4 linked regions of the Homo sapiens genome follow. The protein of the gene in region 3 interacts with the protein of the main gene of each other region in a pairwise test. Each region holds a gene or a part of one and is shown on either strand. Other genes may lie near its edges. The genes, in order: PON2, RPS6KA3, HTR2A and ANKS1B.

Evidence for each region.
Region 1: the proteins of HTR2A (region 3) and PON2 interact in a two-hybrid assay, tested with the Homo sapiens proteins (one study listed by IntAct).
Region 2: the proteins of HTR2A (region 3) and RPS6KA3 interact in a two-hybrid assay, tested with the Homo sapiens proteins (one study listed by IntAct).
Region 4: the proteins of HTR2A (region 3) and ANKS1B interact in a two-hybrid assay, tested with the Homo sapiens proteins (one study listed by IntAct).

What each region holds. Positions count from the first base shown.
Region 1 is NC_000007.14:95,418,003-95,425,030, forward strand, and holds part of PON2 (serum paraoxonase/arylesterase 2), read right to left. Parts: intron 6,584-7,028; coding exon 6,513-6,583; intron 5,687-6,512; exon of another isoform or gene 314-5,686; intron 1-313. UniProt on the Homo sapiens protein: Capable of hydrolyzing lactones and a number of aromatic carboxylic acid esters. Has antioxidant activity. Is not associated with high density lipoprotein.
Region 2 is NC_000023.11:20,263,898-20,270,836, forward strand, and holds the start of RPS6KA3 (ribosomal protein S6 kinase alpha-3), read right to left. Parts: upstream 3,013-6,939; 5' UTR 2,736-3,012; coding exon 2,667-2,735; intron 1-2,666. UniProt on the Homo sapiens protein: Serine/threonine-protein kinase that acts downstream of ERK (MAPK1/ERK2 and MAPK3/ERK1) signaling and mediates mitogenic and stress-induced activation of the transcription factors CREB1, ETV1/ER81 and NR4A1/NUR77, regulates translation through RPS6 and EIF4B phosphorylation, and mediates cellular proliferation, survival, and differentiation by modulating mTOR signaling and repressing pro-apoptotic function of BAD and DAPK1.
Region 3 is NC_000013.11:46,887,052-46,894,079, reverse strand, and holds part of HTR2A (5-hydroxytryptamine receptor 2A), read left to right. Parts: intron 1-1,489; coding exon 1,490-1,690; intron 1,691-7,028. UniProt on the Homo sapiens protein: G-protein coupled receptor for 5-hydroxytryptamine (serotonin).
Region 4 is NC_000012.12:99,974,917-99,981,944, forward strand, and holds part of ANKS1B (ankyrin repeat and sterile alpha motif domain-containing protein 1B), read right to left. Parts: intron 1-7,028. UniProt on the Homo sapiens protein: Isoform 2 may participate in the regulation of nucleoplasmic coilin protein interactions in neuronal and transformed cells. Isoform 3 can regulate global protein synthesis by altering nucleolar numbers.

The sequences.
Region 1 (7,028 bases), on a different chromosome or scaffold from region 3:
ATTTCAACCATATTGTAACTTCTGTTTAACTCCATTGCCTAATTCCAATGGAAAAAATGTATCTATCTGTAGCCTTCTTTGGAATATTTTCCAGATCTTCTCCCCGTCATCATTTCTATAGCCACTACTGCAGGAAGGTTTTATCATCGTGTATCCCCTCTTCGGTGTGATTATGTCAGGAGCAGTCAATGCTAGAGAAATTTTTGCTCCTCTAATTTAATAATAATAACTAACATACATTAGGTACACCAAGTACCAGGCTCCTTGTAAATACCCTGCATACAATATCTCATATGATTATCTTTTATTTTAGAGTGAAGACTATTGGAGGCTTTGGAAAAGTTAAGCAATTGCTCAAGGTCACAAACTGGGAAGCTGGGACTCAAAGCCTTTGCTCTGACTTAAAGGCAAACAGAAAATATTCAAGTTAGAATTTAATGAATTTCCTCTCTCAGAAACATCCCCTGATTCCTCTGTAAAGCCACTTCACTTGTAAATTCAATTGTGGTCAATTCCATATGTTGTCTTTTTCCCCTGAAGTTTTGCTTCCAAGCCTCTCACCAACATCTTTACCAATGAATATCCTGCACTTTTCTTTAAAACCTCTTTCAAAACCTTTTCTGTCTTTTTCGTATTTCAACTTATTTTATTTCAAAACAAATTTATTAAATCTTTACTTTTTTTATTCTAGTGATATACATTAATTTCAATATTGCATTCCAGGTGATATTTATGTAAATATGTGAAAACTTAATACTGTGGGCTGATTTGGCACTGTTTGTCACTCTTATTGTGTGCTTGACTCTCTCCCTCCCCTTCATCGGTTCTCTCTCTTTAAACTTTTTATTATGGGAAATAGACACAAATCAAGAGAATGGTGTGGTGAGCCCTTATATACCCAGTACCCACCTTCAACAGTTATCAGCTCATGGCCAGTCTTGTTTCCCTTGCAGTCCTACCACTTATCCTCATCCTGTGTTATTTTAAAGCAAATCTGAGGCATCATATTATCCCTAAATATATTTATACAAACCACAATATCATTACTACACTAAAAATTCACAATAATTCCTCAATATCATCAAATATCTAGTTAGTGTTCAAATAGCCAATCATGTTTAAAAGGTGTAGCTTTAAAAAATTACAGTTTGTTTAATTCAGAGTCCAGGTAAGGTCCCACACATTTCAATTGATTGATGTGCCTCTTATTTCTTTAAGTCTACCCCGTGTCAGTCCATTATTGCCTGTGGGCAGGAGGACTTAGCTCCCTGGGTGCACTCAGAGCTTTTGGTAGCCAACACTCAGGGAAGTTGGGGGGGATCTGGGGAGGGTATCCACTGCATCCACTGCTCAGGGGAATTAGGGGGAGAATTTCCAGGCACAAGGAACAGCATGAGCAAAAAAACACATGAATGGCACAGCGTAGCATGACAAACCCTTTCTTTAGAAAGTCTCCTAGCTTAGCACATTTAATTTCCATCTCTTCTTATTACTTTAGCAATTATCTGTGTCAGAGGTGGCCAAGTGTTCACCAGCATCCATGTTCCCCTTCTTCCTTTTTAGCCTTTTTAGCAATAGGCACGTAGCAACACAGCTATAGATAACATTGCCCACCCTTTCTGGCTGACAGATGTGGCCATATGTCTAAGTTTGGGTCAATAGGATGTGAGAATACAATATATATGCAACTACTGGGTAGAAAAAAAAATCTACATAAATTTTCTTTCAACCCCTTCCTGCTGGGAAATGGCAACAAGCAGAGTTCTAGTCTTAGATGAAGACAGCTGTGTTGCTTCATCAGCATTTGCCCCTGAATGACCATATGGAACACAGTCACCTAACTACCCTAGGCCATTCACTTACCTTAAGACTGATGAGAGAAAAATAAAAATAAACATCTCTTTTCTAAGTGACTATAATTTTATAACAGCAACGCATCCTTTACTATACCCAATAGAGCATCCCATATGTAACATATTATTTCCTACTTTTCTGGTTCACTCATCAAGTATATACATTAGTCACCCTGGGAAAAGACACTATATTGGAAAGTGAATTTGCAAAAGTTGCTTAACCTCCTTGAGCCTCAGGTACTTATCTGCTAGAGAAAGAAAAGACATATCTATATCTCACAGTGGTTTTTTGTTTTGTTTTGTTTTCCTTTTCTCCCATCAGTAGACTGTAAAGTACTTGATTATAAGGGCCACAAACTTTAATGCTTTTTTCCCCTCAATCTCCCAAGCAGCAGTTATTGTAAAGGTCTTGACTGCCAAGTGCATAAAATTGTTAGTTATCTTGAGAAAGACAGTCCACTCAAATTTTGAAGGCCAGACATTTAGAAAATCAGATTTTTTAACTTTTAAGCCTCAAATAAAGTTAACTAGCTCTTGACATTTTAATATGCAGATGTTAATCTGCCAAATCTTGGGTGTATAAAAGCTTAGTTTCTGTCTATAAGATAGATCGGGAAGGAATTTTTGAAAAGGACTAAATAGTGAACTTATTTTCTGACCCACAGAAGGCACACATCCTGTATGATATGTAGTCAATAACTATGATTTATTAAAGCAGACACAATATGATATGATATATATAAAGCACCCAAAAGTTGCACATAGTTCACTTCCAGTGATGGTGACTGAAGCACGGTAGTGTGTGCATATGTATGTGTGTGTTGATGGGAATCAAGGGCAAGGGGGAAGGAAGGTTCACCTCTTAGAGGGATTAGTTGGCCTCAAGTGCATAGCTACTACTGTTTTCAAAACAGAAAATAAGAAACAGCCCTCTCTATCATAAAAAGTCACTTTTGCCTGTATAGAAATGTGTGTCCAGCACATTGTTATTTCTTCTTATCAAAGACCTGTGAATAAGCAACTGTTGTTAAAGATATATAACCAAAAGTTATTATTAACCATTATGCATCACTAACATAGCATTCGACAAACGTTCATATGGTGTGTGCTAACCACAGGGCAAAAGCAAAAAAGAAAAAAAAAAGGACAATTCTAATTAGATCTAAAAATGTATCCCAAATGTGCTTCTAATCACTCATCCTCTCCGCTCTGTTGCCTTTTGAAGTGCCTCAGAGGCATTTAACACTTCACAAGAGGGGCCATAGGTGACATATTTCCTCATTCTTTCCAATTCCAGACAGCAGCTCACACACATCACAACATAAAGGTCACAAACATAGACAGATGCCTGTTCAGAATACAAATGTTGCTGGGCTTGTTTTTCTCTGAGGAGCGCTCCATCCCAGTGAGTTGTAAGAGGAATGCACTTGGCAGTCTGTCATGTAACATGGCTGGTTGTGCCCTATTGTCTACTCTGAGACTTGTATTCACAGAAGGTGGGCTTCCCAGGGCCAAGGGCTGTTTAATAATGTGACAATTATTAACTCAGCAGCAAAAGTAACCTAAGAGATCACTGGCCCAAACTCCCACCCTTGCCCAACATCTTTTACTAATGCCATCTGGCTTTTGCTGAGTGACCAGTTCTGAGAGGGCTCTTCTTGATTGCAGCTGGAAGGCAAGATGAAGCTGCTAAGTTACTTGGGACTCTTGAACTGTCTGCATGATCCAGCACAGATGTAGTCAATCTGCTATTTGATATGAGTTTGCCTCCTCCCACTTAGTGTTTGGGCAATTGAAAGAAGGAAGGGAAATTCCAGGACAGCCAACCAGTCTAGGGGAGGGGAGGTAGAACTGGGGAAATACAAAAGTATCAATGAAAAAAAGGAGAAAGAACACATAGGAAACAGATGCCTAAGGAATGAGAGGCAGATCAACCTGAGGAAGCTGATTTAAAAGAAGAAAAAAAGAAAGGGAGGCAAGCAAGGTATTTGTAGAGAAACTCTGAAGGTGGCACTGTCAACTGATGGTTTATTTTTACTAAAAGAGTGCTGAGAACTCTGTCTGGAGTGAATGTGGTTACAACTATGAGGTACTGAGTTTATTACTGTTGCCAAATTGAGAGCAACTTAGCAATGACTGTCAAAACTCTAAACACATATTCTAAGGGAACAACAATCCCATTGTTAAGGACATATTCTACAGACACACAAACTCAACAGCAATGATGTTCACTGATTTGTTCATAGTTGCAAAAAACTGTAACAACCCAAATGTACATTAAAAGGGGAATGGTTAAATAAATCATGGAATGTGAAAATATTAAAAAGAACAAAGTAACTATATATGCTGATGTGGAAAGCTGCTCACACTGTTTTAGGAATGAAGAAGGTTGTGAAATATTTACACTAAAATTCTATTTGTGAAAAAAAGAGTCAATATATTTGTTTGCAAATGCACTGAAACTATCAGGAAAGATAAAAAAGGGAGCTTTATCTTTGGGGTTATTTCTGTTGGGGGTGATGAAGAGTTTGATGAGAGATTTTTATTTTTATTTACTTTCCATTTTATATCTTTCTATATTGTTTGCACATACACTGTTTATATGAACTTTGCACAAAAAATACTGTGCAGTTGTGAAGAAAAGGTAACATTATGTACAAACATAAGTTTCCAAAACCTAGTATTAAGTACAAAAAGCTAGTTTTGAAATATTATGCATAATTTGACCTCACTTATGTTTTTAAAAATTATGTACAGGAGTATTCATAAAAAGAAAAAGATGGAAGGACACTCAAAACTTGTTTAACAATGTTACCTATTCAGAGAAGAGAACATTTCCATGTAACCCGAGTTTTAATTTCTAAAGAGTAAAACAAAATATTAAATTGTCTCTCCTACCTCTAGAGAAGGATGTTGTTGTAAAGGACTAGAAGTGACTCAATGACAGTCTAGTTATTTCCACACTGTGGCTCTCAGAGTAAGATTATAAATAAATGGTCCCAGGCTTTTTAAAGTCTAAAAACCATTAGTCTAATCACAAACTCATCATTATAGGTGACAAATACAAAAACCAACTTTGCCTAAGGTTACATTGTGGCAGAATAGAACTAGAAACTAGGTGTTTTGACTGCTAATTCTTTTTGTTTCTAATCATACCATGAACCATATCTAAGGAAAGCCAATATTGGCTGGGCTCAGTGCCTCATGCCTGCAATCCCAGCACTTTGGGAGACCAAGCTGGGAGGATTGCTTGAGGCCAGGAGTTCAAGACCAGCCTGGACAACATAACAAGACCCTGTCTCTACAAAAATAAAAAACTAGCCATGAGTGGGGGCATGTGCCTGTAGTCTCAGCTACCTGGGAGGACGAGGCGGGAGGATCGCTTGAGCCCAGGATATCAGGGCTGCAGTGAGCCAAGATTGCGCTACTGCATTCTGGCCTGGGTGACAAAGTGAGGCCACCTCTCAAAAAAAAAAAAAAAAAAAATTAAAATTTAAAAAAAAGGAAAGCCAATATTTATTGTTCATTGATAATCTAACTACTAGTCTATTATGTACTAGGGACATGTACTTAGTAGATGATAAAGGGTAAAAGACAGCAAGACACAGACTCTACCTTGGAGAAAAACTGCAAACACACCAGAGAGACCCTCAGTGCTGGAGAAGAATCTGGACAGATCCCTCCTTATCTATAGCAAAATTGGGGCTTGCTCTTAGGAACCCCTACTCAAAGACTCAGACTCCACAATACATCCTACATAAAGTCAAGGGAAGAGGGAGACTCCCCCTCTGCAGTCATAGCTTAGAAGATAAAATAAAAACAAGTTTTTACAATACATATTGTGAAGTGCCGGTACATCAGTCCGTTCTCAGGCTGCTAATAAAGACATACCTGAGACCGGGTAATTTATAAAGGAAAGAGGTTTAATTGACTCACTGTTCCGTGTGGTTGGGGAGGCTTCAGGAAACTTACAATCTTGGTGGAAGGGGAAGAAAACACACCCTTCTTCACATGGCGGCAGCAAGGAGAAGTGCCGAGCAAAAGGGGGAAAAGCCCTTATAAAACCATCAGATCTCATGAGAACTCACTCACTATCACGAGAACAGCAGCACAGGGTAACCACCTCATGATTCAATGACCTCTCACTGGGTCCCTCCCACAACACGTGGGGATTATGGGAACTACAATTCAAGATGAGATTCGGGTGGGGACACAACCAAACCATATTGGTCAGTTACGTGTTAGCCATAAGATCAGATCCTAGTTATAGAGTAGTGAGCAGGGTAAATGCTGTCACTGCCTACATAAAGCTTCCTTCACTAGCTGACCACAAGGCTCACAGAACACAGACTGCAGCGGCCATACCTGACAAACAATACAGACGCAACAAAAATAGTTCAGAGAAGTCACAAAACAAGCAAGAAATCAAATGCTAAACATAGAATTACACACAAAAAAGAATAATTTACAGTGAGGGTAGGAAAGAAGAATAAATACAGGGTTCATCAGATCAAGAGGTTGACCAAAGAGGTTTTTGTTGATCTAATGTGATTTATCCACTGAAAAGCAGTAATTTCATGCTAAAATGCCATTAATGAGTGTTTTAATGTTAATGGCCAAAAAATGCAATGTGCCCAACAAGCATTTTCATATACATACCAATTCCTTTAATCAGGTGGCAGTGTGGAAGGTCTACAGATTCTACTTCTCTGGAGGCTTTAAGTCGATTTCTGTTACAAAGAAAAAAAAACAAAAAACAAAAAACTATTTGTTTATGTATTCCCTGCTTTGTTTTAGAAAGGGTTTAAAGAGGCTTACAGCAATACATAAAACACAGTTTAAGTCTAAAGCAGATGAAAGAGAAAATAGAAAGACAAGGGTAGGAAAATAAAACTGCACCAGAAATGAAGTTAAAACAAAAATGCCTATTGCAAAGTTCTATATACTGATGTGGGTTATTAAAAAAAAAAAGCCAATAACTCAACAAATAAAACTTATAATGCAAGTTCCTATGCAAATGTAAACACAGCACCATGTCACATTTCTCAGTGTTGGTGTTGTGGGAAAAGAGTTCCAGATGTAGAACCAGTAGCCCTGTCTTCCTTCTGAAGAGTCAAACGTGAAAAATGACTGTAAGCCTCACACAGAGACTGCAAAGAAGCCAAGAGAAAATGG
Region 2 (6,939 bases), on a different chromosome or scaffold from region 3:
GACCAATCCTGAAATCTTTTAACCTGGAGAGAAATATTTTGATGTATTCACTCAAGTAAATGACTCTAAAAAAAACTATGTTACTCTGGTAAAATACAATTATCTGATAGGAACCTACTGGGGGAGGAAACGGTATAATAGTGAAAATATTAGACCTCTGAGTGGAACTTTTCAACCTTTCCCTCACTGTCTTCAATATTTCCAAATTGTATCAGAAGTAATTTACTTGAAATAGCTGAACAAGCAAAGGAAATTAAATATCTAAAGGCAATTTGTTAGAATTTAATTTTAATAAATCTTGGCAACACTGGCTCTGTTTGACATACTTTATGCCAGGATAGCAAGAAAATTCTTTGAAAACAGCAAATTGTGGAATCCTATCTGTCAAGTTCTGGAAAACATGATAGTAACTGAAATAACAAGGCTTTACCAAATGAGACCTCTTATAATACTCTATTTGTTTCTGGAAAATAGATGACCTCTAACTACTGGCTTATTTATACCCCGAATTTTTCCACAAAAGATTTGGAACAGCTACCCTGATATAAAACGAAGCACATGAATTGTATCCACCTGGCTTTGAATTATGGCTCTGCCATTTACTATTTATCATCTTTGTACCTTTTAAATTCTGAGATTTGGTTTCCTAATCTATAACAATGGGGACCATAATCCTACCCTGCTGGGTCACAGGAAGGATAAAATGAAATAGTAATGTAGCACAGTACCTGGCATACAGTTGGTGCTAAATAAATATGTTTTGTCCTTCCTTATCCAAATGCATTCCAGATAGAAAAAGGATAAGGTGGAATTCTAAACGATATTGTTTTCCTATCACACTGATACATGCCAAGCAGAAATGTGGACTGATCTTGAGTTGCAATTGTTAATGTTTGTATGTAAAAGTCAGGCTCAAAGCAAATTTAATTTCTTTCCACAAGTTCAGTACTTTGCGAACATTTTATTAACCTTTTAGCTATATTATTTAATGCAAAAAATTTTCTGGGGAAAAATATGACGAGCTCTTGCATACTGTTTTTCACACTACCCATCTAAAGGATTATTAAACATCATAAATTTGGCTTTTTAATAAAATATTTATAGTATTAGTCTGGTTAACAATTTTAAATAAAGTTCTTGTGATTCTGCCAGTCTTAAAAACATGATTTCCTTTCTTTCTTTCCTTTTCTTTCAACATATATCAATGTCTTTTCCATTGAAGAGCAGCATTTAGTTCAGGTTTTACAAGTATGATCCAAGTCGCAAAATACTAAGCACCAATCATAAGCACTATTACAACTCTGCGTGCGTTAAGGAGAACAAGCAAAATTGTTATACAGCAGCGGAGGTGACTGGGGGAAAAAGTGAAAAGCGATTTGAACTGATCCCCCGCCCTCTCCATTATACCGGAGAATGCAAGTGTCCCGCATCTCAAGATTAAACTGAGCCTCGGTTTTACTGACGTAACCAGTAACCCTATCTACTTCTCACACTGCGGAGGCCGGCAGGGCAGCGGCTGCCGCCAAGCACACCACTCATCAGAGCCTGCCCCGTTCCACCCCCGCGTTTCAGTCATGCTTTCCAGAAATGGGGTCACTCACTCAGTAACTATTACACACACGCAGCCTATCATCCTGTAATCCCCTAAAGTCCGCTGCGGGGAGAGAAGGCAGCAAAAAGTCAAGAAGGAAGAATCACAGACGCGCCACCATCAGGAATTGATTTTCCACTCCGGAGAGGAGCGGTGATACCTTGGAACGGGTCTTGTCTGGATTATTTTCGCAGACCCCGAGTTGTTCTGGGATAGGGGCGGTTCAGGAAAGCTCGGTGTAGTGATGCGCCCGGGGAAATTCTGTTTTGCCCTGTTTGGGTATATTGTTTGGGTTTTGGGCACTAGGATGGGTGACTCAGGGACGGTCACCAGATCCCGGGCGAGGAAAACCAGAAAGCCTTTTACGGCGGCCGCTGATCTCCTTGAATATCACCCTCTCACCTCCATGGACAGGAAACTCAAGTTAAACTCACAGGGACGGGGGTCTAGCTCTGCGACCTCAGAAACGGAGGGGGTAGGGGACCTTAGGCTTCCGCTTTCTTCTTTGCAGCAGCAGAAACCGCTGCGGCAGACGAGGGGGAGGCAAAACCCTGCACCCCCTACCCGAAACCCCCACAGGTCGCCGCCGCCCGTGCCCCGCGCGCCGGTCTCCCCGCAGCAGCCCCTCCCTCGGCTGGACTCGAGAGTCCCTGCTCCCCGGTGAACCCGATCCCTACCCCTCCCTCATCTCCCAAAGTCGCCAAGGTCCGGGAAAGCCCCCGACCCGGCTGGGCCAAACTTCCCAACTCCCCGCCGGCCCCCGCTCCGCCTCCCGCTTCCCCCACGCAAAGTTGATTAAAATTGGCTTCTTGCAAAGCCCCAGCGCCCACTCCAAACCCCACGCGCCACCACACTGGCAGCCCCCCGAGCGAGGGAAGGAGGTGAGGGTGAGGATGGAAGGAACAGACAGACCGGCCAATAGACCCACCCCAACAACCCAAACCAAAACCCTGAGCCCGGGGGAAAGACGCGAGCGGGATCAGAACGGGCCGAGTGGCCAGCTCCGGGGAGCGAAGCGAGCCGGCGGGGGCGCGAGGAGGAGATGCGCCGGCCCCGGCCGCCCTGCTGCACTCACCTCAGCGCTGTCGGACGGGCTCTCCACAGCCATCTTCTGCCACGGGTCCGCCAGCTGCGCCAGCGGCATCTTCCCCCCCGGCCCGCCGCCTTCACCGCCTCCTCCCTCCCCGCCCGCCCCACGGCCGGCCCCGCTCCGTCGCCGCCCGAGCCCCACGGCAGCGGCGGCGGCGGCGGCGGCGGCGGCAGCGGCAGCGGCAGCGGCAGCAGCAGCAGCAGCGGCGGCGGCCCCAGAGAGGGCTCGACGCCGACGCCGACCGCCCGAAAGCCGCGCGCCTGGCCAGAGACGCCCGCGCGCTGAGCGAGAGCCTCGCGCCTCCGCTGGGCACCGGGTCTCGCCCCTTTCTTCCTCTCCTCCTTCCGCCGCCGGGACTACGGCTCCGCCCCCCCCGCCGGTTCCCGCGCCCGCTCCCAGCAGAACAGCGACCGCCGCGCGCTCCCCCACTTCCGCTCACAACATGGCGCCTAAGCGATACCTGTCTCTCAAAGCGAGGCTCGGCCGCCGCCACCACCGCCGCGCGCACCCAGGGGCTGGGCTAGTGGAAGACACGCCCCCGGCCGCTGCGCTCCGCTCCTCCCTCTTCCCACCCCCCTCCTTCTGCGCCCCAACCTCAGCTTCTGGGCCTCGCCTACTTTCAGGAAGGGCGAGCCCAACAGATCTGGGGGCGTCGGCGGGAGGCGGGGGAAAGAAATGGGAAAGGCAGGAGGGGCGAAGGCTGGGAGCCTTTCACCGCCAAGGGTCCAAGGAGGTCGGAGGCTCCTTGGGAATGAGGGAGAACAGTGGTCCCCGCCCAGCTGGGGAGGGAGGTGGGCAAAGTACCGGGGGCGCAGTCCCGAGCCAAGGACCCGGGGAGGGGTGCGGAGTGTCTTTTCGGCTTGTCTCCTCCGGGGGTGCGTGCGTGCGGACGCGCCTAGTCTCTGGGCGCATCCCGTAATGGCCCAAGACCCTCCCTCTTCAGGGTCACATGCTGGGAAATCACCTGCCCCCCATCTCCCCCGACGGAGGCAAGGGAGGCTTCGTGCCTAGGAGCCTCCTGGGGGCTCGGCTCCCGGTTTGATTCAAGTCTTTTCAAGTTGACGCTCTTTTGTTAAATTGTGGCTATTTGGGATTAATTCCTCTTGTATTAGTCGCTTCCCCCGCACCGCCCCCAGCCCAAATTCTCCTCCCCAAGTGCGCAGAGCTCTCGGCCTTCAGCTGCGACCCTGGAACCGCTGCCCCCCGCCCCACGTCTGCTACCTAAATCTTCAAGAGGGGAAAACAGGGAGGTTCCTTAAGGCTGTCCCTCTCGGTAGAGGTTGGAGAATTATTTAAAAATATCTTGTAGGCAGGAGCGCGGGGTTCCTGCTCCTCTGTTGACTTTAAATAAGAGATTAGATTTAAAAATCAGGCTGGCCGTGGGCGGAGGAGGAGGAGGAGGGGGACAGAGGGAGGGGAGGGGTTCTGACTCCTCCTCCTGCCCAAGATGGGGAAGCCCTGGATTAAGGAAACCCAATGCCCCGACGGCGACGGAGCCCCACAGGACGGCGAGAGCTTTGGGGGGAAGGCCTGGGCGTCCGGGGTGCGTCCCAAGAGGACTCGACCCTGTGTTCACTGCGCCAGGAGCCGCTGCGCGCTAAGTGCGCCCGGGCAGAAATGTGTAAAAGTCGCAGGGCTGAGTGGAAAGCTACTGCAGCCCCTGGCTAGTCGCCCAGCGAGGGGAAGAGAAAAAGCAAAGGGAGATCTCCGAGCCGGCCTGTCCCTTCAAACCCTCAGGCCGTGGCCCAGGCATCCCGGTCTTCCCACGCCCAGCGACCACGGCGCGTCCGCTGCTGCGCTCCCAGCGCACGCCTATTAACAGCTTCCTTTCATCCTCCCGGGACCCAGACACCTGGAGAACCCTCGCCTGCCTCCCTAAGCAGGTGTGAGGATGAGATTAGAGCCCCAAACCCAGCCGGCCAGGTCTGCGCGGGCGGTGCGAGGTTTCTCGCTGGGCCTGCGAGAGGCAGGTGTTGGGCTCTTTCTGCTGCCTTCGCCAGCGCGCCCCTTGGCACAGGCTCGAGGCCGGGGAACCTCGTGGCCATTTAGGGAGGCTCCAACTGTTTAGGGAGCCTGAGAAGGCGGCAGGAAGTCCTCGTTGCGCGCCTTCTCCCGAAGCTTTGGACTCAGGGGGACCGCTCAGGTTGGACAACATCTGGGCAGACTCAACGTGGTCTGGGGAAGAAGGCGAATGGGGCCACTTGGCTCTTGCCTTTGTCACTTCCCTTCACATGCTATATTCAGGTGTTGCAAATCCAACCTGGGCCCAAACTCAGCTAATTTGGCAGCACCTTCTCTGTGTAATTCCCGACGGTAAAACGTGCTTGCAGAAGTTTGGAGGATAAGGAGTTGTGTACTATTTTGCATTTATGTACAAAATGCTTTATTCATTTACATTGCAGAGTCACATGACCACTCCTTATAGCGAAAAGAAGTTCGTTAATTCGGTTGGCTTAAAGTAAATTAGCTCCCCCTACCCTTTGATCAATTATTTCAGTTAACATTCTTGCATTAGTAAAAACATACATAGTTGAAGAGAGACCGTTATGTGGCTAACACTGTTCAGTGCTAATTACCCCCACGCAAAGAATGAATATTTTAAAATAAAGCAAATTGTATGCCATTTTCAGTATCAACTTTTATTCATCTCTGTTAACCTTGAGAACCAGAGGAATAACTTTTAAAACAGAGTTACCTGATCTGTAAAAGTAATGTGAGCGGTGGTCACGTTTCAGTGAATTAAGCATTACATGAACTGTTAATAATGGGTTAAAGTGGCCGGGTGCGGTGGCTCACCCCTGTAATCCCAGCACTTTGGGAGGCCCAGGTGGGCGGATTACCTGAGCTCAGGAGTTCCAGACTAGCCTGGCCGACATGGTGAAACCCGGTCTCTACTAAAAATACAAAATTAGCCGGGAGTGCACACCCGTAATGCCAGCTACTCGGAAGACTGAGGCAGGAGAATCGCTTGAACCCGGGAGACGGAGGTTGCAGTGAGCCGAGATCGTGCCATTGCACTCCAGCCTGGGCGACAAGATCAAAATTCTGTCTCAAAAACAAACAAACAAACAAACAAACAAACCAGTTAAAGTACCACTACCACAGATGTCTTGCACAGAGGATCAATTTGATAAGTATTTATGAATTGATTGAATTTATTTAGAAGAACATTATTCTTCCTTTTGCCCCAAAAGCAAAGAAAATGATTTTTTGTTGTTAACAATAAACTTTTTCTCTTTTATTTCTTCTATTAAATCCAAGAGCAGTGCAACCACTCTCTTTGGTTAGGAGAATTTGGAAAAATCAAATGAGGCTGGAGGATTTTTCTTGAAGGTGGTAGCAAAAAGAGTTACTTGAACATAGAAGCTGATATTGCCCTAAGCAGGATTACTTTTCCCCTCTGTTTAACAAAGGAAAACTCTAAGTGTAGCTGTTCAAAGAATAGCTGCCTCAGATCGCCAGACCTGCATGGGTTAATACGGTGGTTAGTAGCCACACATGGCTACTGAGCACTTCAAATGAGGTTGGCTGGTCAAAGTTGAGATGTGCTGTAAATGTGAAGTTCTTTCTAGATTTCAGACTTAGTAAAAAAAAAAAAAAAAGAATATAAAGTATCTCATTAATAATTTTTTATATTCACAACATGTTGAAATGATATTTTTGATATATTGGGTTAAATAAAATATTTCATTAAAATTAATTTCACCTTTTAAAAACTTTTTAATGTGGCTACTATAAATGTATACTTACATATGTGGCTTTCGAGACTTTTATGTATTCCTACAAGTCATATAATGTTAAGTGATATCTTCAGATTCCAATGTCTTTTTGGCTTCCTTAGTGCAGAATCAGCAGAAAGGGCTGATTCAGTTACCTACTGATCCCCACCCTCCCCAACAAATCTCCCAGTCAGAACCAAAATATTGGAAAGTTCTTACTTGAAACTACAGTAGAGCGAAACAGCAAACCTCAGTAGAAAATCTGAAGGAGGTTTCCAAGAAATCATTCCTAATGTATGACGGGACAACTAGATTTAACCTCCTCTGCCCCCAACAATTTCCTGCTATAATTATAACCTTTGTATACAAGTTTAAATGGGCATTTATTTAACAAAATAACATTTGTTCAAAAAATAGAGTTACATCAGTCTGGAAAAGTTGCAAGATGACTAACTATGGCTCATGGCACAATCTCTACCTCATATACATCCAAAGTTCACAGCTCTGTACATATAGATTTGTCACTACTGTAGAAAATC
Region 3 (7,028 bases):
GGCCGCCTCCTGGCAGAGAAACCCCTCCGAGGGCCGACATCTGTTCCGAACAGACAGAGCGTGGCTTCCCCCATAAGGCGCTGCAAAGGAAAAGGCTTTCCTTTCGGCTCAAGCTCTTTGCAAATAATACATGTGAATGGCTGTAAATTAGGCTTGTACCTACGCCCTTTACTTGTCTAAATATCCCTTGTGGCATTTTGGTAGAGAGTGTACGTTTGCGTTGGAGTTTGTTCGGCTTTGTGGGTCTGTAATAAGAAAAGTGGACTTTAAAATTTTCCTTCTTACATGCAGGCAGATCTAACTCCGCTGCTTATACTGTGATCAAAACTAATTAAGGTTTACATAACTGCTTAATCCCCCTCCAAAACACAAAACCAGGACACTTTGTTTATGTCCATAAAGCACACTCTAACCTTCCTCATATAGCAGGTGACCTGCAGTATCTCTTACATTGGAATTGTCTGGGGAGCTTGGAAAAAGCTTTGCAAACGCTTTGACATTTGATGTCCACCTCAGCCCACCCTCCAAACATGATTTAATTGGGCTGGGTTTGGCATGGGCATCAGGACCTTCTCTAAAGCTCTCCAGCTGATACTGATGTGCAGCCAGGGGTGAGAGCCACTACCCTAAAGCAGCTATTCACAAAGCGTGGTCCCTGGACCAGCAGCATCAGCATCACCCGGGAGCTTGCTAATTCAGATGCAAATTCTACAGCCTGCTCCCTACTAACTGCATCAGAACCTCTGGACGGAGGTCCAGCAGTGTGTGTTTTAAGAGGTGTGGCAGAGTCTGATGCTCACTAAAGTTTGAGAAATGCCTCCCTAAAACAAAGCTCAGAGCAAGGACACCTTTCTTTATTTTTCTTCACCCTTGTCTTCAGCTCTCCCTACACATACCCCAAATTTGAGTTTGGCACCCAAAGCATTATTAGATCATTATTTTTCATTTTTACAAACAGACATATTCACAATCTGAATTTTTAGTCATTTAGTCATTTGCACTAATGCAATTTATTGCCATCACTGTATGGGACTGGATGGTTATAATAATGACTAAGAGGTGAGACTAACCTTAGGGAAATACAATCCAGAGAAATATGTGACTAAATCCTGACAGTACAGTGTGAGAGGTGCTCCAGAAGAGGAGCCAAAACACAAATTTTGACATAAGCCATTAACAAAAGAAATGTTTTGCCAGGCGTAAGGGGGAAGAAAGAGAACCCCCAAATAGAGACCATCCAAGCTTACCGTGCCACACTCACATAACTCCAGACACTAGAAATTTTCAAACCCTGCATTCATCAGCCAGTGCTAGCTTATCATAGTTAAGTACAGTTGCCAGTGGGCTTTTTTCAAATACTAAAAATATATTGTGTTGCCCTTTGCCACCACCTGTGCCTGTCCCAGAGCTGGAAATTGTCATAGGATAGGGATACATGTGCTCCAGGAGGCACAGGGTTGCTCACTGACACCAACCTTCTGCCTCATAGGGTACCGGTGGCCTCTGCCGAGCAAGCTTTGTGCAGTCTGGATTTACCTGGACGTGCTCTTCTCCACGGCCTCCATCATGCACCTCTGCGCCATCTCGCTGGACCGCTACGTCGCCATCCAGAATCCCATCCACCACAGCCGCTTCAACTCCAGAACTAAGGCATTTCTGAAAATCATTGCTGTTTGGACCATATCAGTAGGTAAGTGGCAACATATTTCAGAGTCTCATTTGAAATGACAGTTCGTGCTTTCTGAAAAGACTTGTTCCATTTTGTTGTACTGAAACCTGACATCCTCAATCTACTGTTTTGGGTGGTGCAAGATATGTTACAACATCATAATTATCAGATTCGCTTCAGGAAAGAAAAATCTGTTTATGTCACTGGCTGACAACATGAATTTGTATTGCTTTGCACAGGCAAAACTATAAACAGTAGAGCCAAAAAGTCAGAAATAACTGTGCTGTTTTCCCTATTTCTTACTTTCAAGTCCACGACTCTAATTCTTGGGTTTCCCAAAGACCTCAACTTTTATAATCACTGAACTTATGATCAACGTAAGGATGCAGACCACTTTGCTAGAGAACATAAAGCCTCTGGGCTCTAGAGAAAGGTACCATGTGCTGTAGCTTGGAGGGAAAAGGTGGGCCAGAGGAAAGTGCCAGGATTTGCTTTGGGGCAAGGCTGCTTTTCAGTCCGACCCAGTGTCCCTATTGACCTTCCTCCTTTTATGATACCACACACCAAAGGATTTCAACTTGCTTCTGTTAGGTTGATTACATATATTCATCTCTCGCCAGTATTGATCTTCTGTCACACACCTAATAGTCAGAAAAGCCCAGGTAATGGAAGCTAAGGGGGCGGGTCTCAGGCAGTGAAGTGAATTGTACCTGTCAACCTCAGCAGCTTGGTTGGTAACCAAAGATTCTCTGACATTCATTTTAAAATCCAAAAGCTTAGCAGGCAGGAGTGTTGCACCTGTTTATGGCCACGCCAGTGCCAGCATCCGCTAATATGAGAGACTATGAGATTCCACCGCTTGAAATCAAGGGCTTGAGTGAGCTTATCCACAGCATTGGAATAATAGTACCAATAATAAGAGCCAACACAATAATACTATATCTTGTGTATTTTAGTTCCCATTGTTTTCTTTGCTGCTAGCAATGGGAACTATTATGCAATTTGAAGAGTAAGTAGCTCCATCTTATAGATGAGGAAAAACTGGGATTCAAAAAGCAAAATGAGCTGTGCAAAGCCCCACAGCCAGTAAGTAGCACAACAAGGATTTTATTGAATTCTGATGGGAACATCTGATGGAAACACTAACAAATCACACTTGTGTCACTTTCAAATGTTTAAAAAGTCTTACCTACTTCCTATTTTAAATTTCCCATTACCGTTTGAGATAGAAGATTCTATGGTGCTTATTTGATAAATGAGGAAACCAGAATACAGAGGTATTGTGGCTTACTGGATCATGTCTCCAACTTGCAGCAGGACTAGGACTCTAAACTTCCAGCACCATGCCCTGTTCTTTCTGTACCTTCCTTAGGAAACAGTTTTTGCTCCTAGAAAATGCTTGTAGTTTCTGGGACTGTGCAAGTTGGACTCATTCTACTAAGAGCAAGAAAGTGAAGGGCCAGTAACCACTCAATCCCAATTACACATAAAATGCCCCTGGGAACATTCTGATTTAATTGCCTAGGGTGAGGCCAGGTGATTCTAAGGGGCAGTCAGAGTTGAAGACCACTGAGACAGGTTTTCAGGGTGGTCAGCGTGATAAGTAGGAGAATCAAGATTAATGCAGAGGGAGCAAATGAAGCTATTTATTTTTACCCTGATACACTGTCCATAGTTTTACCCCAATATACTGTGCCATTGGTGAGACAAATGCTGGGAAGGTCAACCATCTTTTCCTCAGCCACACTGACTCCCCCATCTCATTCAGGCTTCATGATAACACCAGTAGTAAGGTAACAGTTTCTGAGCACTGAGTACGGACCCAGTAGTATACAAAGCCCCTTAAAGAAAATCAGCTTCAGAGAACTCAGTTGCACAGGATGATATCACTTATAATCAGGAGTCAATATGGGTCAATCTGAGTCCAAAGCCCATGCTCTTTCCACTGCACAAAAGATAGCCAGAAAGAGCCAGAGGCAGACTATCACCACAGGAGGCAGGCAGGCTGGAATGATTGTGGTGGTGCCAGGCAGGGATCATTCATCCATCCACTTGGCCAGTCTTTTTGAGATGAAGTTTCGCTCTTGTTGCCCAGGCTGGAGTGCAATGGTGCTATCTTGGCTCACCGCAACCTCCGCCTCCCGCATTCAAGCTATTCTCCTGCCTCAGCCTCCTGAGTAGCTGGGATTACAGGCATGTGCCACCACGCCCGGCTAATTTTGCATTTTTAGTAGAGACAAGGTTTCTCCATGTTGGTCAGGCTAGTCTCGAACTCCCGACCTCAGGTGATCCCCCTACCTTGGCCTCCCAAAGTGCTGGGATTACAGTCATGAGCCACTGCCCCCACATTTGACCAGTCTTGTAATGTGCATCTACTATGTGTTTGGCACTGTATAGACCAAGATGAAAAAGATATGCATTCAAAGATCTCTCACAGTAAGGTAGGAGAAGACAAGGAAACAAAAGAATAAAAAAAAGTTACATAGAATCTATACTAGAAGTCTGAGGTGTGTGCCCTGAGGAGGGGGCAAGCGGAAAATGTAAAAAGGAAAAAGGCAGATCTAATGAAGGACCTACAGAGACTCAGCACAAATATTCTCTTGAGTTTTCTTCTAGTGTTTCTGTTTTGATTATTTTGCTTTGGGTTTAGTTTTTTGTTTGCTTTGTGTGTGGTTTCTTTTAATTTAGATCCTTAGTCTAGCTGGAATTTTAAAATATGATCTAACTTGTTTGCTTCTACTAGTAACTAAAGCTTTTTTTAGACTCAATTGATATTTTCTCTTCAAGCTATTGATATGTTCACTCTCTTGGTAAATTTCTAAATGTAATACTGTCTTACATTCCTGGAATATTGAGTTTGTATGACAAAGTTGGTTGGTTTATGATTCTTACAAGTTTTCTTTTTCTAGCTTTATTAAATGATAGAGAAGTTTCCACTTTCCCTAAGTCTTGAAGTCTTTAAGTAGAAATTACATGTTTTTGAGAGGTTATGTAGAACTTGGTTCCAAATCTCTTCATCCTGGCTCCTTTTTAAATAGTATTTTAAGTTACATTTCTAACTTCTATAGTTATTGCATTTACATTTTCTATACCTTCATGGGTTATTAGCTGCATACAAATTTTAACCTTTACATTGATTCTTTTATCATTAACTGTCCCACTTTATATCTAGTGATGCTTCTTGATTTAAAATCTATTTGATCTTAGTATAGCTACGTTAATTTTCTTTTGATTATCATTTTTGGATATATCTTATTTCATCCTGTTACTTTCAAACCTTTTGTGACTTTAAAGTGTTAGCCTGTAAGCAGCATATAAAGTTTTGTTTTTAACCCCATCTTTGTCTTTTAGTTGGAGTATTTAGTCCTTTTACATATAATGTTAACTCATATTTGGGTTTAAATCTGTTATCTTACAATTTGCTATTTTCTTATTTGTTCTATATTCTAGTTTCTTTTCATTCTTACCTTCTTTTGGACTAATCAAGAATTGTCAATTCATCATTCCCCTTTATGAGCTTGTTATCCATTGTTTTAAATTACTTCAATGATTACAACATTCCTTATTGACCTTAGAGTCTAAAACAAATTATTACTTGTAACACTTCTCGGATAGTGCAAAAACTTTAGAACCTTTTAGCTCCATCTATCCCTGTTGTCTTTTGGGTTTTTCCCTATTTACTAAATGTCTTTTTTAAACCCATAAGACATCATTATAGCCATTCTATTCACTATTTCTCACATATTAACCCCTGTTGCTGTTTATTGCTTTCTTCATTTTCATGATTTTGCCTGGGTTCCTCATTCCTGAAGAATTTCCTCTAGAATATCATGTCGTTTGTTCTGTTTTTCTTATCCTAAGCATCTTTATTTTGCTTTCATTTCAAACACATTTTTGTTCAGTATAGAATTCTAGGTTGACAGTCATCTTTTTTTTTTTTCAGCACTTCATAGGTGGCAAATCCAACATTCCAGGCTTATATTTTTTGTTTGTAAGAATCCAGCTGTCAGTCTTATTTTTATTCCTTCAGAAACATCACCTTGTGCCACGCCCTGCTGCTTCAGAATGTTTTGTCTCTATTTTAGCAACTTTATCATGATGTACTTAGTTGTGAATTAGTTTCTGTTTTTATCCTGCATGGTGTATGTACTGATTCTTAAACTTGTGACTTTGGCCACTTTGACAAAACTCTTGGTCACCATCTTTTCAAATATTGCTTCTGCCCCATTCTCTCTCTTCCTCATGTCTGGGACTCCAATCTCATGTATGCTAAACCTTTTACCTAAGTTCTTTATAACTCAAGCACTTCTACATTTTTTTTTTTGCTTTGTTCTTCAACTTTTAAGTTCAGGGGTACATGTGCAGGATGTGCAGGTTTGTTACATGGGTAAACGTGTGCCATGGTGGTTTGCTGCACAGATCATCCCATTACCCAGGTATTAAGCCCAGCATCCATTAGTTATTCTTCCTGATGCTCTCCCTCCCACCTCCCCCCACCAACAGGCCCCAGTGTGTGTTGATCCCCACCATGTGTCCACGTGTTCTCACGATTCAGCTCCCACATATTAGTGAGAACATGCAGTGTTAAACACTTCTACATTTTGTACATTTTTCTCCTTTTATTTCTTGAGATAGCTTTACTGACTTTTCTTCTTCTGTTACTAGTCCTCTCATCAGCTACTTCTAATCTGCCTAAGACCCATCTCTTGTTTTCTTAATTTTAATTCCTACACTTTTAGTTCTAGATTTTTTCATTTAATTCTTTATAAATTCCAGGTTTTTAGAATAATTCTCCATGTTTTCATCTATTTTCTTAAATATTAATCACAAGTTATCTGGATCTCTCTTTTCTGGGTTGTGGGATTACCTAGGGATTTCTCTTTTCTGAGTTTTGGGGTTGTTTTTCTCTTCATTCTGTCTGTTGATATGTCTGGTAATTTTTTTAATTGAGTACTGTGTATGCCTGATAATTTTTTTTTTTTTTTTTTGAGACAGAGTCTCACTCTGTCGCCCCCGCTGGAGTGCAGTGGCGCGATCTCGGCTCACTGCAAGCTCCACCTCCTGGGTTCACGCCATTCTCCTGCCTCAGCCTCCCAAGTAGCTGGGACTACAGGCGCCCGCCACCACACCCGGCTAAATTTTTTTTTGTATTTTTAGTAGAGATGGGGTTTCACCATGTTAGCCAGGATGGTCTCGATCTACTGACCTCATGATCCGCCCGCCTCGGCATCCCAAAGTGCCGGGATTACAGGCATGAGCCACTGCGCCTGGCCGCCTGGTAATTCTTTTTAATTGAATACTGGACACTGAAATAAAATGTTTGGGTGTTTTGTTGATACTGCCTTTCTCCAGAGTGGAG
Region 4 (7,028 bases), on a different chromosome or scaffold from region 3:
TGCACAGATTCATCAGAAGAATCACTATGTATGGCAGGAGTTTGAGGAACAGTGAGGCTCTGTCCTTATAAAAAAAAATCAAAAAATTGGTTGGGCATGGTGGCACATGCTGGTAGTCCCAGCTACTTGGGGTCTAAGACATGAGAATCACTTGACCCTGGGGGGCAATGAGGCTGCAGTAAGCTGTGATTGCACCACAGCACCCCGGCCTGGGTGACAGAGTGAGAACTTGTCTCCAAAAAAATGGAAGAATTACCACCTGTATCCAACATTCTCTTACGAGCCTGGCAAAATCCACTCCATTTGTTCTGCCAGAAGAGGTCGATGGCTTTACTATTTTGGCCTAATGTTTTGTTGCCTCTTTAAATGAAAATACGAAAAGAGCTGCTTCTTTCTAAAAGCTTTACCAATCAATTACAACTTCACTATGAATTAACTGTCAGGTCCCACAAACACTTTTTGGTGGTAAAGAAAGGAAAGAAAAGGCACTGGGTCCATGACGTTAGAGGATAAATTAACATTGAGGTATAAGCATTCCCTTTCCTCTGCAGCCTCACCAGCATCTATTGTCTTTCGACTTTTAAATAACAGCCATTCTGACTAGTGTGAGATGCTATCTCTCACTGTGGTTTTGATTTGCATTTCTCTGATAACTAGTGATGCTGAGCATTTTTTATGTTTGTTGGCCACTTGTATGTCTTCTTTTGAGAAATGTCTGTTCATGTACTTTACTCATTTTTTAATAGAGTTACTTGTTTTTTGCTTGTTGACTTAAGTTCCCTATAGCTTCTGGATATTAGGCCTTTGTCAGATACACAGATTGCAAATATCTTCTCCCATTCTGTAGGTTGTCTGTCAGTGTGGAAGGTAGTACAGAGATTTCTCAAAGAACCTAAAATTGCTACCATTCGACCCAGCAATCCCATTGCTGTGTATATACCCAAAAGAAAATAAATCATTCTACCAAAAAGACACATGCATTCATGTTCATTGCTGTGCTATGCACAATAGCAAAGACATGGAATCAATCTAGATGCCCATCAATGGTAGACTGGACAAGAAAATGTGGTACATATACACCATGGAATACTAGGTAGCCATAAAAAAGAATGAATCCATGTCCTCTGCAGCAACATGGATGGAGCTGGAGGCCATAATCCTAAGAAAATTAACACAGGAACAGAAGACCAAATACCACATGTTCTCACTTATAAGTGGGAGCTAAATATAAAGCATATGTGGACATAAATAAGGGAACGAAAGACACAGTGGACTACTAGAGGGTGGAAGGGGGGTAGATTAAAAAACAGCCTATTAGGTACTATGCTCACTACCTAGGTGACAGGATCCATGCTCCAAACCTCAGTGTCATGCAATATTTCCATGTAACTAATCTACATACATACTTCCTGTATCTAAAATCTGTTGAAAATTTTTTTTAAATATTCAGATAGGCTGGAATCTAGAGATGATGCCAGCTGGCACAAAAACTGGAGCCAGGGTGAACTTGTAGTAATTAGAAAAAAACGCTTTTTTTCTGAGATGTGATTGAGGAGGGTTAAAGGGAATGTGGTGTGGGAAATAGAAACAGGAAAGGAGGTTGGCTGTTTATGCTCACATCCATCAATCAAGATTTGATCCAATTTGATCAAAGAATGGTAACAAGTCTAAGCAGTTTGTTTCAGTTCAGTTAACTAGAAGTGATTAACCACTTCAAATAAAGCTACTCTCATAACACAATAGAATCCAAATAACTCTACTGCACAGCTTAATCAAAGTTCCATTTCACAACTAGATCCATGAAGACATGTCATTTAATAAGAAACATGATTCATAAGAATCAGATTCAGAGATGAACACTCTGGACAGTGCAGTAGAAGAAACAGAGTGTCTTAGTCTATTTTGTGTTCCTATAAGAGAGTACCTGAGACTGGGTAGTTTACAAACAATGTATGTTTTTGTGATTCACATTTCTGGATGCTGGGAAGTAAAAGAGCATGGTACTAGCATTTGCTCAGCATTTGGTGAGGACCTTCTTATTGCATCATCCCATGGCAGAAGGCAGAAGGGCAAGCAAGCATGGGCAACAGAAAGAGGAAATTGGGCTGAACTCATTATTTTGTGAGGAGCCTCCCATGACACCTAACCCACTCCCACAATAATGGCATTAATCCATTCATACATGCAGAGCCCTCATGGCCTAATCACCTCTAAAAGATCTCACCTGTTTGTTTTGTTTTTATTTTGAGTAGGGTCTCACTCTGTCACCTAGGCTGGAGTTCAGGGGCATGATCATTGCTCACTGCAGCCTCAAACTCCTGGGTTCAAGCAATTCTCCCCACCCAGCCTCTCAAGTAGTTGGGGCTACAGACGTGCAATGCCACACCTGGCCATTTTGTTTTGTTTTGTTTTTTATAGAGACAGGGTCTCACTATGTTGCCTAGGCTATTCTTGAACCCCTGGCCTCAAGTGATACTCCCGTCTCAGCCTCCCAAAGCCTGCGATTACAGGTGTGAGCCACCACGTCCAGACAGATCCCATCTCTTCATACTGTCACAATGACAAATAAATTTCAACATGAGTTTTGGAGACAACACTCAAATCATAGCACTGTGGAAAACAAAATTTATCCTTTGGTCATATTTTTTGATCCATCTTCAAATATCAATTAAAAGCCTCATCCAGATTTAACACAAATGTAAAATGTATTTGATATCCTACTGACACCAAAGAAGAAAAGTAGACTCTTAAGAAAAGTTTCTAGATCTGTATTACACAAGAAAATTCAATGAGTTTTCAACTGGCATTGTGCCTCTGCCTGCCCGTACGGCTTACATAACCATGTCCTCACATGCATGAGAAAGAACTGGAAGATAGAAGCGTCTTCTTTGTAAATTCCTTTTTCAAATATAAAATATTCTCCCATATCAACATATGATGAGTAATAAAAACTCACTGTATTTTAATTAACTAACATCATTCTGCAATATGTCCAAAACGGAAACTAAAGACACTCTAAAATGCATTAAGTGTTAAATATCTTCAGGTTCCATAGGTTGAAATTAGTCTTTTCTAACCTTTGTCTGGCATTATAGTCAGCTTCCATTTCTAGTTAAATACTCAGGAATAATGTTCTATCATAGGCTTCTGATAGAATTTTCCAAAATTACCTCAAAATTATTTCAGTATATAACTGAACTAATCAAATTGTTTACTGTCACCTGAAAGGTTAAGTTGCTAAAGTCAGCAGAGGCACTAATAAATATTATATGCTTCTGCCTTAATGTCAGTGAAGACTTGCATCAGCCTTTGTCATCTGTAAGAAATCGAGTCACACAAGAAACTGTGCAATGGATGGACAGGTTGAGTAGTAGTCACTGGCTGGCTGCCCTAGTTCACTGCTACACATCACCCTCAGTGTTTTGAAAAGGGAGCTGAAAACCCTGCTCAGTGGAGAAAGAGGTCAATACCAAAATTCACCCTCCTTTCTCCTTACTCCCCATCATGCAGCTGGCACTGTTCACTCTGGCAGATACAGCTCCCTGAACATAATGGTGCAATCACCACTTCAAACATCATTACTATCTAAAATAGATAACCCACTTGCAACTTGACTATTTTTATAGATATAACATTTTCATGGAGCTTAACTGCTCTATTTGTGATTTATTCCATTTAACCAATGCAGTTTCCCTGAAAGTGAGTTTCTTATATCAGGGTCCCAATAACCACAATTGCCCAAATAGTTGTGAAAATTACAGTACTTCCTAGTTGTCTGTTATCTCCCTGTATTCATCACCAAAATGACATGAGCTGAATCCTAAATCTGAAAAATTATAAGCTCTCTGGTTTTTATGTTTTTGGTGACCAGAAGATTGTTTTGCTCCACTTCTTATTGATCTACTTTTTCACATGGGGATCTTAAGAACTGTATTATTTATTTCTGACAAGAATTTACTAAATACACCTTATATAAAACTCAACTCTTCGAGGCATTAAGAAAATCAAATAAATTGAGGCATTAATAAAGTTTTATCACTGTATTAAAATACAAATAATTCTCTATCCTATACTCAGCAAAAAATTAATTAAATATACATTTTAAATGGAAATTAGTTTTGTTTAGAATAAAAGGTAGTTGTGCCAAAGGAAGAGAGGTTTTTTTTTAAGATTTTGCAGCTGTCTCATAAAAGATATGTTAAATAAACTGAAATTTCACATAAAATGTAGAGGAAGAAAAGGAGGGAGGCAACTCAATTTTAGTGCTCTGATGAGCTCAGATTTCTTTAAGGATGAAAGGGGGTAGTAAGAGGTATAACTGCAAGCAAACACAAAAAAAGAAATATATACTTGTCCAGGAAAAATGCTAATGTCCTTTTTAGCTAAGTTTGAAAAAGAGAAAAGAGGTGTAACAGTTCACTAATTTCACCTTCAGTTCTGGCAGAGTAAAAGGAAAACTGTGGGTAGTTTTAAACCACAAGATAATTTTCTATGATATCTAACAATGCCAAGAATCTAATTCTTCCCAACTTTTATTTTGCTTCTATTTTCCCTATTGAGAACCATTTTCAAATCAGAAGGGATAAACAAATAACTTCAGGAGATTACTGAAGGTCCAAACGAGACCATAAGGGACAGTAAGCTGCTTTAAATAAGTATGCATATCCAGACCCAGAAGAATTAGATGCAAGAGGGTAGAAGGAATTTTTGCCAATACTAGGAATTACCAATGGCTCACTGCCAGAAACAAGCCATAATAAAGTAGACTGATTTTGATGGAATTTAAAGGATAGATCAAAAGAATGCCATACACTTAAATACAGTGTGAATTTAGAAAGGCAGTAGATAAAATACCTCACAATATTCTCACAGGAACAATGGAGAGAAATAGCTGATTGTCATTGCGTGGCTTCAATCCTGGTAGAAATACCATGAGTAAAGACTGTTACTTTTAAATTTATACTAAGTTGAAGAGAGGTGCTTTGGGGATATAGCACAGTGTGTTGAATTTAGGTTATAGAAAACATGCTTATTACATCTCTGGATGATACAGGGGAGAGAAGTTAATACGCTGAAAGACAGACTCAAGAGTCAGAAAGAAGAAAAAAAAGAGTCAAAAAGATATAGAGAAATTACAAATACAACATAAAACAAATCAGATAAAAAGGAACAGGAATAATTTAAGCTCAATCAACACTTTTAAAAGTACCAGAAAGGGGACCTGGCTTCACAGGTCATTGAAAAAAAAAAATACCAGGAAATTTTAATTGACTGTATGTTCAACATGAGCCAACACCATTACATGGCCCAGAAAATCTTGACCTGTAGGTAGGTCTTAGATCAATAATAAAGAGATAATAATTTCATTGTATCATGTTTTAATAGCTGCTATTTTATTTTAATTACATAATACATATTCATTACAGAACACTGAAAATAAAGCCCAACCACAATTCCACCACTCAAAGATGAATACTATCTTCATTTTGGCATCTTATCATTCCAGACTTCTTAAGCACATTATAAGTGTTCAAACAAACTTATTTTTTCTTGCAAAAATAAGATCATACTATAAATGCTTCTTGTAACCTGCTGTCCTTGGTTTTCTTATTCAGCCATAATGTTCTACTCTGGTCAAGGGACATCTACTGCATTTTGTGAATTTCTAGTCACCATACTTTAAGAGGGTCATTGCAAAATTTGAGAATATGTAAAGAAGGAAAGAGAGAGTAGAGAAAAGTATGAAAACTAAGTTCTTAACATCTATGCTGTCTTGCCATATAAAAGGTTAACAGAGATGATAGCTCTTCCATGAAAAATACTTATAAGAAAACAAAAATACATGCATCTAAAGAACTATCCTGCAGATGAATTAGACTGCTTTATATTGACCCATACAGCCAATCTACTACCAATTGCTGAAAGTCACAGGGAAGTGGATTTTAGCTCAATGAAAAGAAAAATTTTAAAATAATTACAGCTGTCAAAAATAGAATGAATCTAGTCATTGGAAGGTTTAACAGGGCTGGAATAACTAACAGGTAAGAAATGTTACAGAGAAAATTTCCGCACTAGGTGAGAAGTTGGAAGAAAGTTCCCTCCTTATTTGACGATTCTATGATTGCTATGGGAAATTTACTCCCAGTCCAATAGGAAGCAAATCTTTAGTCATTAAGGCCTTAAAGAATACAGTCAAGTGCTTTAGAGGTGCATGAAAAATATTAACACTAACGATGAACACCTATATGCTAAATGTTTTGCATTCATTACTTTATACTTCATTTAATCCTTATAATGATCTTATATGATAGGTACTATTATTACTATTTCCACTCTGATAGAATAGTGAGGCTTAGAGAGGTTTTTAAATTTATTCAATGGCATTCTTACATTTGCTGAAAATTGCAGTGCCACCCAAAAGCATACCTGATTCCCCATTACATAGTTACTGTTGAAAGGATAATTTCTTATTACCAGTAGATAACAAGTAATCAGAAGCATCTTCAGAAAAGTTCTTGTCTAGTGAACCCTCAAAGGGCAGTTGTGAGATTTTTTTAATTAGAAAAAAATACCAAAATTTAAGGAATTTCAAATTATTCTTCATAGCAAAAAATGTTCAGATTGGCCTGTCTAAATTGGCCACATACCTTTAAACTTTTGTGAATAAAACAGATTCAATGAATGAGACTTAAAATGTTGTAAAACAAATCTGAATCACAGATTTTCAAATCTTTGCCATTATTAATTAAGTGACCATGGGCAAGTCCTTAATCTTATCTTTTTATTCCTTCATCTGTGAAATGACAATGGACCTCCTAAGGCTGACACAAGAATTGAATGAGATGACACGTGTAAGCACTTAGCATAGGGTCTGACACCATTATTACACAACCCAGGTAATAAAGCAAGCGGGGAAAAAGTGCCAAACATATTCTACAGTTCCTTCTAAAACATTAAGAAATTTCAAAGTGTCATTATGTTTGACGGGGGACACATTTTCCATTATCCTGCCAATAAATTTCTGATGA